Linked DNA regions of Homo sapiens: region 1 is linked to region 2. Evidence: fine-mapped expression QTL. A gene starts in region 2. The other region holds a variant in brackets. All regions are shown on one strand. Distances are between the middles of the regions. Region 1 overlaps LOC107985357 (a long non-coding RNA gene). Region 2 holds the start of PGBD5 (piggyBac transposable element derived 5).

Region 1 (5,372 bases), 150 kb before region 2:
GGTGAGAGTTCCTCCCTTGTAAGAAGGAGAGCCATAACTTGTTAGGTAGAAATACTGAGTTGTTTGGTTTTTGTATGACAGTCAAATGTGTGTAGAAGAGTGTGTATGAAACCTGGGTATTCAAAGGGGTAGTCTGTGCCAGGGGTGCATTTATGGCCTGTCAGCTCTAAATTCACCCTTCAGTACCTGCTGTGCAAAAATGAACTGAGCTTTCAAGCTTTCCTCTTTTATAGCGAACACGATGTTAAGCTTCGTCAGTAGAGGGCAGTGGAAGGGCACTTAGGGAACGTCCTTTCTAGCTGCAGTGGCTGTGCTTTGCTTTTCCTGCACCCGCCGCTCTGACCACCCGCAGTGCGCTCTGTGTGGAAACATCGCTGGTGCTCTGCCCCAGCCACACGTCCAGAGCATGAGCCTCCTAAGGCTTTGCGGTCCTAATTGGGGCCGAGGAACCACGTTGCTGTGTCCCCATCCTCCACCCCCTGCCCAGCCCCGGGACAGACACTGTGCTTCAGGGCTTTGACTGCAGTGTGGCCTCCGCTCCCTCTGCATGCCCCCCACCAGCCTTGGCTGGCTCACACTCAAGAGGCCGGATTCCTGCTTACCAAGTGAAGGCAGAGAAGCTCAGGCCCCAGTAGCCCAGAAACTCCCTTGCCATCGAGGAGTCTGCAACCGCACCTTCTCAGCAAGGATGCAACCTGGGGAAGAAGCGCCCCTCCAGGCAGCCCCTCCTTAGGGCCTTTCTCCCAACCCTCGGGTACCCGTTTTTGTTTTCTTTACATCTTTATAGTTATTCTCCTATAATAGTTTAATAATTGCTTATATTAAACTTCCCCTTTTTCTGTCTCCTGATTGGACCCACACTGATAAGCAAGATGATAATGAAAGGAAGCCCCAGAATGTCAGCTGGGCCGCTGGCCTGTCTGTCAATTCGTTCCAATTACAACAGGAAGCCAGACGGCTCCAAGGAGGGATGTCTCTGGAACAAAATGACAACCGATAGCTTCTCTCATCTCATGGAAAAGTTAACTGAAAAGCTGTAGAGGGCATGGGAAGAATTATCTACACATACATAGAATCATAAGAAAATTAAAATTTACTTCATCATGTAGAAAATTATATTGAGAAGCTACGGAGAAAATGGGAAGAACTGGCTAGAGGCACATAAATGCCTAAGAAAATGAAAGTGATTTCAGCACTTAAATTTAAGCGATGGTTAAATCCATAATTAGCAATTAATTATAAAAGAAAGGAACTATAATATATTAGATGTGTAATTAACAATATGAAGACAATTAAAGTGATTTAACCAAAATTACAATAAACCTGTGATTGAGAGGTGGGGGAATAGCAAACAACAGGTGGGGATAGGGTGGTATAAGAAGCCAAATAACCATGCAATTGCAAATGATATTGGAAGAAAAGGAGGCATTAGCAAAGAATAAGTCTGCCTGTCCAGAAAGCATATCATCGTTAATGGGTACAAAAATAGAGTTAGATAGAGTTAATAAGATCTAGTATCCTGCCAGGTGGGATGCCTCATGCCTGTAATCCCAGCACTTTGGGAGGCTGAGGCAGGTGGATCATTTGAGGTCAGGAGTTTGAGACCAATCTGGCCAACATGGTGAAACCCTGTCTCTACTAAAAATACAAAAATTAGCTAGGCAGTAGTGGCGCATCCCTGTAGTCCCAGCTACTTGGGAGGCTGAGGCAGGAGAATTGCTTGAGCCTGGGAGGCAGAGGTTGTGGTGAGCTGAGATCAGGCCACTGCACCCCAGTCTCGGTGAGAGAGCAAGACCCCATCTCAAAAAAAAAAAAAAAAAAAAAAAAAAGATTCATAGCACAACAAGGTACTACAGTCAACAATAATTTATTGTACATTTTAAAAGAACTAAAAGAGTATAATTGGAACGTTTGTAACACAAAGAAAGGATAAATTCTTGAGGTGATGGAACCCCATTTACCTTGATGTGGTTATTACACATTGTATCCTTGTATCAAAATATCTCAGGTACCATATATATAATATTAAAAATTAAAGCAAATTCAAAGAAAGAAAGCATATCACCACGCTATACCAATGGTGGATACAAGGCAAAGGCCACGCAGAAACAGAACAGAACAGCCCGGATACGTAAGAAAAACAGCAGGAAGCAAAAGGCCACTGTGAGCTAAGGCTTGTAAAAAAAAAAAGCTGACTTTCAAAGTTTGTTTT[G/A]TTTAACAACTTAGGCATTAGACGACCAATTATTCAGCTGAGAGCCACTATTCAGGAGGGCGTTTGATGTGGAGACGTCATGGACAGTTGGAAAACATGCAAACTAGCAAAGGCAACCCAGAAGAACACCACTCGCCGTTCCACTACGCGAAGTTTAACTCTGTGTTTCTGAAGCTTCCACGTGCATGCGGATGACCTGGTGTCCTGTTAAAATGCAGATTCAGAGTCAGTAAATCTGGGATGGAGCCTGAGATGCTGAATTTCTAACAGCTCCCAGGTGGTGCTGATTGCTGCTGTTGGTCTGCTATTCTTTGAGTCCAAGAGTCTGAGTGACTGTAGATCTGCCATGCAACCAATCATTACAAAAAAAAAAAAAAAGATACAATAAGTTGACTGAGACAGGACAGAATATGGGAAACACAGGTGTGTACATAACATTGTAAACCAAAACGTATCTGAGGCAGGTCTCAATTAACTTAGAAGTTTATTTTGCCAAAGTTAAAAACACGCCCAGAAATAAGGATTACAAATTTGTGGGAGCAATCTCTGTTCCATGCCATTTTCCAAAGATGGTTTTGAGGGCGTCAATATTTACAGGGGAAAAGCAGGTGGAAGAGGAAAGAGGGAGAATATGGTCACAGTACAGAACCCACAAGTTGCAAGAGAAAAGGAGCAGGTAAGGGAATAGTCAATTATGAGTTAGTCTTGTGCTCAGTGAGGTGGCACTTTGTATAAGATAAGGTGAATATATAGTAGCTATTTGTGGGGATATTTAACCTTTCATCTGTAGCTATCTGCTTAGGAACAAAAGGATAGACAGCTTCTTGCATGATTCAGCTTTTGGCTTATTTTTTTTTCCTTCTGTCAAAGTGAATTGGGGTTCCAAGATTTTATTTTTCTTTCCCAACATGGGGCTACTTGTCTCTAAGTGCTATAGGGACAATTGGCTCATATGTGCACAAATGCTAAAGAACTCTATCTTCGAAGTGGAGGAGACATGGGAGAGAGCTAAGAAACTTTGTAGAGTCTTAGAAAATTCTCACCATCAAGGAGATGCATGAGAAACCACATAGATGAGAACCACACCCCACGCCCCCCACTGCACTAGCAGTGTTATCAGTGGTGACAACCATCCCCGGTCTAAGAACCAGTGACTTAGAAAATTCTCGTTTCCATGTGGATGGCATTGATAGGTAGATCTGGAAAGTGTACCAGTAATTTGGCAATTTTTCATGACCTGCTTAAGAACAGTGTAAGGAAATATGGATTAGATGCTATTTACAATTAAGTAGAGTAGTCACTGGTTTAATAACCATACCCAAAGGATATTGATTAATTGACTGATGTCCACTTAAAGGAAGGTTTCCAGGACCCTGTGTACAGCTTTTTCATGTTCAAGTAAGGTCCATGATTGGAATGAACCTTGGGATATGAAAGATGTACATCAAGTCTCTTCTGCAAGTGGCAGAAAGACCAATTCAAACAGCCTTAAGCAAAAAGAGAATGTATCTGCTTATTAAAGTCCAGAGCTTGGGTGGGTTTCAGGCAGGTTGGCTACTCAAACTGGGCCCTGCTCTCTACAAGTAAACAGAGAGCCACAGAGTGATGGCGTGGATGTTGTAAAGAAGGATGTACAGAAACAGGGTGCAAAAGGAGGAGGGGTCAGACCCATTTGGTAAGAAACAGCCAGGAAAAACCTCATAGAAATGTCTTGACTGAGTCTTGGGACACAGGAAGACAGTCCTTAAGAAGTCAGGTGAGCCAGGCATGGTGGTTCACGCCTGTAATCTCAGCACTTTGGGTACTGAGGCGGGAAGATCGCTTGAGCCCAGGAGCTCAAGACAAGCCTGGGCCACATGGCAAGACCCTGTCTCCTCAGAAAATAAACAATAACCAGGCATGGTGGTGCACCTGTAGTCCCAGCTACTTGGGAAGCTGAAGCCGGAGCATCACTTGTGTCCATGACGTTGAGGCTGCAGTGATCCATTTTTGCACCAATGCACTCTGGGCAACAGAACAAGACCTTGTCTGGAGAAGAGGAAGAAGAAGGAGAAGAAGAAGGAGAAGGGGAAGGGGAAGGGGAAGAAGGAGGGGAAGGGGAAGGGGGAGGAGAAGGGGGAGGAGGAGGAAGAGGAGAAGAAGGACGAGGAGGAGGAAGAAGATGAGGAGGAGGAAGAAGAGGAGAAGAAGGAGGAGGAGGGGGAGGAAGAGAAGGAGGAGGAAGAAGAGGAGGAGGAGGAGAAGAAGGAGGAGGAGGAGGAGAAGAAGGAGGAGGAAGGGGAGGAAGAGGAGGAGGAGGAGAAGAAGAAGGAGGAAGGGGAGGAAGAGGAGGAGGAGGAGAAGAAGAAGGAGGAGGAGGGGTAGGGGGAGGGCCCGCCAGGGAAGGGGAATGGGCCATCAGGAGGCACCAGTGCGTAGTAATTAGGTACTTACATATGACGTGCTGGAGTCAGAATGCCTAGGTTCAAATCTTGCCTCTACCTTGGGCTTGTTATACTTCACCTTTCTAGCCCTTTGTTGCCTTATCCACAAAATAGGTATATTAGTAAGGTTTTTAAATAATAGCTAACATTTCCTGAGGGTTTATGAGATACCAGGTGTCATGCTTAATGCCTCAGACATGTGTTACATTTACCTAGGAGATAGATATTGTTATTACCCCTATTTTCAGATGAAGAGACTATAGTTCAGGAAGTAACTTTCTCCATCATAGATACAAAGGAGAGACTAAGAATTTAAACTCAGGCAGAGGCAGAACCTGTGCTTTTAGCCATATATTCCTCCAGCTTTCTAGAAAATGTTTGGAAAACAGTTATCTTCATCTATCATCACAAGATTTTCAAACAGGTATTTTCCTCCACGTCTGTCACTCACAATTCAACTTTACTTTCTCTGCAACATCTCTTCAACTCTCTTGAGAAGCTCAGATGAAAACAGCGAAAAGCTGCAAATCCAGCAGAAAATCCTTTTCAAAGGATTTGTCTACTTTATTTTAATCAATTAATTATAGAGACAGGATCTCGCTCTGTTGCCCAGGCCGAAATGCAGTGGTGAGACCATAGCTCACTGTGGCCTCAAACTCCTGGCCTCAAGGGATCCTCCTGCCTCGGTCTCCCAAGTAGCTGGGATTACAGGGGCAAGCCACCACTCCTGGTGGCTC
Region 2 (5,303 bases):
GCATCAAGATCTTATTTCTCTGCTCTATGCTCTCCAGTGCCTCCCCATATCACTCCAAATAAAATCTGAAGTCTTGCAAGATTTAACACCCACCCAACTTCCTCTTTGATTTCATCTGCTACCACTTCTCTCTCAGCTCTGTCATCTGCCTCCTCAGTGCTGGCTGACCACAGCTAGCATGCTCCTGCTTGGGGGACACATAGAGTGGGAGGCCAGTAGCTTGGATGAGTTAGGAGCACTTGTGTAAGAAATGCAGCATACCAAATGCTCTGAGTGACTTGGAGGAGCATATTCTGGAGAAAACCTGGGCATTGACAGCTCTGAGTTAGAAAGTAAACAAGGATAGTGAGATTCTGAATGTGAAATTCGGAAAACTTTAATCAATTAATTTATATTTTATCTGTATGCATGCAATAGAGTGATACGTAATAAAAATCTGTCCAAAAATTATGATCAAATAGCTTTTTCAATAAGTTTAAATTATAATTAGAACAGAAAAGGAACCATTGTATCATAGTTTCCTATGGCAGCACTTTTTTCTTTTTTAGTGATACATAAAACAATGGTTCACTGTACCATGAAAGGAGGTTTAGACTTAATGAAATATGGTGCTTAGCCCTAGTTACATAAAAGCATGAACCATTGGTTTAACAAAACCTAAGGAATCTACTACACAAATGAATTGCTTTTTACTACCTTGAGCTGTTTGGGAAAACCATAAAACCAAAAGCTCAATATTAATCTAAAATTATTTAATTATATTTTATAATTAAATTATTTGGAAGATGTTTTCAAATGACTCAAAGTTAAAAGATCTCAGTGTGATATATATTCTATAATTACTCTCAGAAATGATGTTACTAATAAAAGTTAATGATGTAGAATCATAATCGTCATTATCAAATAGGAGGATGCCAGCCAGAGGAGAAAGCTTTTGTTTTGCAATTGTTTTGTCCCCTCACTCCTTCTCTTACCACAGTGAGAAGCAGTCATCTGTTTTCAAAGGTTGGAATGTTTTTACTTTTCTTGTTTGGAAACTGGCTTAAACAAATGTAAGTGCTATAAAATACTTCACTCTAAGTTGAAATATTCATCTAATTTTTATTGGACAAGCTTTGAAGTAACAATTTGACTTCTCAGTGTTTCTTTTGTGTCCATATAATCCTCTCCTCAGTGTTGCATGTGGTGTGAGCTACAAGCATTTGTGAGCCTAGGAAGCACAAGGCCCCAAGGTTTCCTGGGAATTAGCACCATACAAATGCAAATTAGGGACACCGGAAGACTCTGTCCATCCTTGCCACTGCTGTTGTTTTGTTCCTTGGTTCCTTATGGGTAGCAAAGCAATTCATCGTTTTTAAAACACGTACCTTAGCTGTTGACTTTTTCATTGGCTAGCTGGAGAAGAAAAGAAGGAACTCTTTCCTACAGATTTTAACTCTCTGAATCCCATTCAATTATTTTTTCCATTCAACTATTTAAAATAGATAACATGAAATCTTGCAGGAGCCTCACACAATTCCTAATTGCAGAATTTGAACTTGAGCTATGGAGTCTTACTCTTCTTCTTGCATCTTCAACCTATGCTTTACTATCACCCTTTTTGATAAGTCAGATTACCTGTACTCTCTTCAACAACTTTCAGCTGGTTAGCACAGTATATAGGTATGTTGGAAACCAGATATTTTCCGTGGCATAATTCTTCCAAGAGAGTAAAAATGCTTTGCAAGCACTTCCTCATTTTTCAGCCAATCCACATAGCAAGGAAAGTTCCATGAATCTTTTCCTTTTTATATATTGTCTGTTAGTGATGATCATGAACCTATGCCTGTGCAGAGCCCCTGATGTGGAAGGAGGAACCACAGGGGCTGGGGAGGGGAGGGCATGAGTGAAGGTTCCTGCTCGACACTAGAAGTGACCCCACTTGGCGGCAAAATGGTCCTTCATCCTTTATGCATTCGTAGAAATCGCAACATGCCTTTCTGTTTCATGTAACTACAATTTAGTTAATGCTCAGTAGGATTTGTAAGCCCTTCACATCTCTGAGGATTTATTTTATTTCAGAGTGAAAGTGACTTTATGGCCCATTTACCATTAGTGTGACTTATTGCATTATTCGAAGGAGGAGGAGGGGAGCAAGAAGACAAGGCAGTCTCCGTTACGCGTATCGCCATCAACAGGATGACCACCACACATTCCTGCCCAAGGAAGAGGGGCGGATGCAACCTTTCTGTGCTATTGTTTATGAGAGCACTGAAGCCTGGGTGATCATGCAATATTTCAGTACATGAGTGTTTCAAGTGTGTGTGTGAAGGAGATATTAAAATAGAGGTGTGAGAGTAATTAGTATTTGGAAGTAATGGATATTTTGAGTTCAAAAGATGCCACACGTCAACGATGATGAGGAATGACTAGCTACTTAACTCCAGTGCTGGCACCCTTAAATTACAGGGATACTGAAGCGAGACGGAGTTAGCATCTGACCAGCGACCAACAGTGGACCGGCGAGGCGGGCTCCTAATTAGAGCGAGATTCCCAGAAGCTGGACAGCCCCTGTATTTATGGGAGCATGCGGCGCAGCTGGCAGTGACCCCCAGGAAACCTCGGCAGCAGCCGCCGCCGCGGGTGTGGTGACCTCGGGCCCGCCGCCTACCTGGAGCGTTTCGGCGGCGCCTGGTTCAGAACCACCGGGGCGGACAGCTCCCTGGAGCTGCACGCGGACTGCGGAAGGGGACAGTGAGCGGGATCGGCCCGCACTCCGTCCGCGGGCCCGGACCGCTGGAAGCACCCGGGTCCCCCTCCCCTCCTGTTCCCCGGTCCCGCCCTCCCCCTCCCGCGCTGCGCGTGGCGGTCCCGGGCTGCGCGTCCCTGTAGGAGGAGACCGGCACTGCCGCCGGCGGCCCTCCCCCTAACCGCCAGCCCCGGCCGCGCGCCCCGCCCCGCCCCGCGGAGGAGGGTGGGGGCGTTCCCCGCGCCGGGCCCGCCCAGCTCCCCCGCGGCTGTCCGGGCCGGGCTCCCCATTGGCCGGCGGGCGGGAGGTGAGGGGCGGCAGGGCCCGCCTCTGGCGGCTCGCGCCCGGGAAGGTCGGCAGCCGAGCGCCGGAGGCCGTGGAGAGGGCGGGCAGGGAGGCGGCGGGCGCCGAGGAGACGCAGCGGCGGCGGTGGTGGCGGTGGTGGCGGCGGTGGCGGCGGCGGCGCCTGGTCTCGGCCGCAGCCTCTGCGTCCCGCCCGCTCTGGGTCGCCCCTGCCAGCCCCGCGCGCGGCTCGCCTCCCGCCGCGGCCCGCAGCCTGCGGCGCCCGAGCTCCGAGGGCGCTTCCCCGGGCGCTGGGCCCGAGGCGGCCAAGACGGCGGGCCGGCCGGGCACGGGGCGGCGGGCGCTGTGCTGCGGGCTGCGCTGGTGGGGGGCGGCGGGCCGCGGCGCGGGCCCAGGGCCCGGCGTGTGCGGCTGGGAGGCACTGTGGGGGCGGGCGCGCGGGCGGCGGCCGGGGCCATGGCCGAGGGCGGCGGGGGCGCGCGGAGGAGGGCGCCGGCGCTGCTCGAGGCTGCCCGCGCGCGCTACGAGAGCCTGCACATCTCGGACGACGTGTTCGGCGAGTCCGGCCCGGACAGCGGCGGGAACCCCTTCTACAGCACCTCGGCCGCCTCGCGCTCCTCCTCGGCCGCCTCCTCGGACGACGAGCGCGAGCCCCCGGGACCCCCAGGGGCCGCCCCGCCACCGCCCCGCGCCCCGGACGCACAGGAGCCGGAGGAGGACGAGGCCGGCGCGGGCTGGAGCGCAGCGCTGCGGGACCGCCCGCCCCCGCGCTTCGAGGATACCGGCGGTAAGGGGCTGCCCGCGGGTGGATGTCGGGGGCGGCGCTGGAACCGGGCGCGGGGGAGGCGTGGGTGCTGGGGCGGGCGAGTCCAGACTCTCCGTGGGCTGGCTTGTGGGTGTCTCTCCGGAAACAAATGAGGCTGCAGGAGCGGTGATCGGTCTGACTGCTCCTGGGGGCTCCGAACCCGTGGGTGGAGAGGGTAAGGCGGAGGCCGTGGCCAGCACTTTTCCAGTGACAATGTCGTCGGGGACCTTTTCCTTCACTTCCTGGGAGCACCCCAGCCCCTGCATGGGAAGTCTGTCACACCTGTGGGTCGGACTTTTAGGGGTGGATTGAAGTTAGGCTTTCCTAGTTGAGGGGGCTTTTCTGAAAGCCCGGCGTGGCTGGTGGAGGCAGGGGGAGTCGTTTTTTCACTGACAGCCCAAGAGCAAGCCTTACAGCAGGTGACGCGGGCGAGGCAGGTAGGAGTTGGCCCAGTGAGAGTTGAGAGAGAGGCCACCCGCGGCGTCTTGACTTGGCTTAGTTTTCTCCTTAATCTGAGAAACTTTCCCTGTCCGCGCCATTCCAGATCTCTTGTTAAGAATGGGGAGGAGTGAAGGAAGGGACCGATTGGGCAGCGTTAAGGTGCTTGCTTTTCCGCCAGAAGGTACTTTCAGGTGTGTCCTGCTTACCACTGTGGCCACAGACAAGCCCCGAATACCTGGAGAAGGTGGCTAGGGTGCTGGCAGCTGCGGCTGCCCCACTCCTCTTCACTGTCTGTTTTTGTGGGAGTTGGCTGTTGAAATATCACCACTTCCTCTGCAGAAGCTCCGCAGCCTCTGCCTTCTTTGAAAGCTGCAGACCAGCCGCCCTCTCATGCTGGTATTTCTTGTTCCACGGCCTTCTGTAGCAGGCCCGTGCTCCTGCATGCTGTGTTCTTCCGTAGAAGTGCGCGCAACCGGTGTTGATGAGGGCCAGGGAGTGGCCGCGGTGGGCATGATGCGGCTTTTCCTGTGGCCTTCTCTGATTATTGTTCAACCGGTCAGGAACACGGCACATGGGAAGGCAGGCCCAAGGGACCTCCAGCTGGTGCCTGGACTTGGATCTGGGCATCATGCTGCAGCCTGCTGGGAGGCCGGTAGGGTTAGCTGGACTCTGAGTAGGGAGTGGTCTGCAGACCTCTGGCAGGCTGCGGTGTGGATGCGCGGAGCTAAAGCTGGGCTTGCAAAGTCACAGTTAGCTGTGCACTGCTTTGGGGGTGGGTACATTTTAAAGCATGTGCATTTGGGCTGTAGTTAAGAGCTTGGGAATTTTCAAAATCATTGACTCTCTATAGTCCTTTTATACTGTCCTATATTTTCCAGGATGTCATTAAGGTCTCCTGGCCCTAGACAGCTGTTTTCCTATTGGCTCTTTAAGAATTGTACCAGTCCACAGACCTGGTTTGGCAGACTTTATGCCGTGAGCATCTGTGATGTAATTTCGATCCTGGAACATTTGAGATCCAGGTCC

The links.
Region 1: its variant is fine-mapped to the expression of PGBD5 in blood mononuclear cells (TOPMed, PIP above 0.99).

What each region holds. Positions count from the first base shown.
Region 1 is chr1:230,576,798-230,582,169 of GRCh38, reverse strand. The region is part of intron 1 of LOC107985357 (a long non-coding RNA gene); the gene reads left to right. Among named protein-coding and RNA genes, the nearest start is that of LINC01737, 16 kb to the left of the region's middle. The variant G/A (reference allele first, on the strand shown) is at 2,213.
Region 2 is chr1:230,424,113-230,429,415 of GRCh38, reverse strand. It overlaps PGBD5 (piggyBac transposable element derived 5), which reads left to right and starts at 3,084. Exons shown (of 7, transcript NM_001258311.2): 1 at 3,084-3,818. The coding sequence starts at 3,488. RefSeq lists enhancers at 1,915-2,461, 2,462-3,009 and a silencer at 2,818-3,137.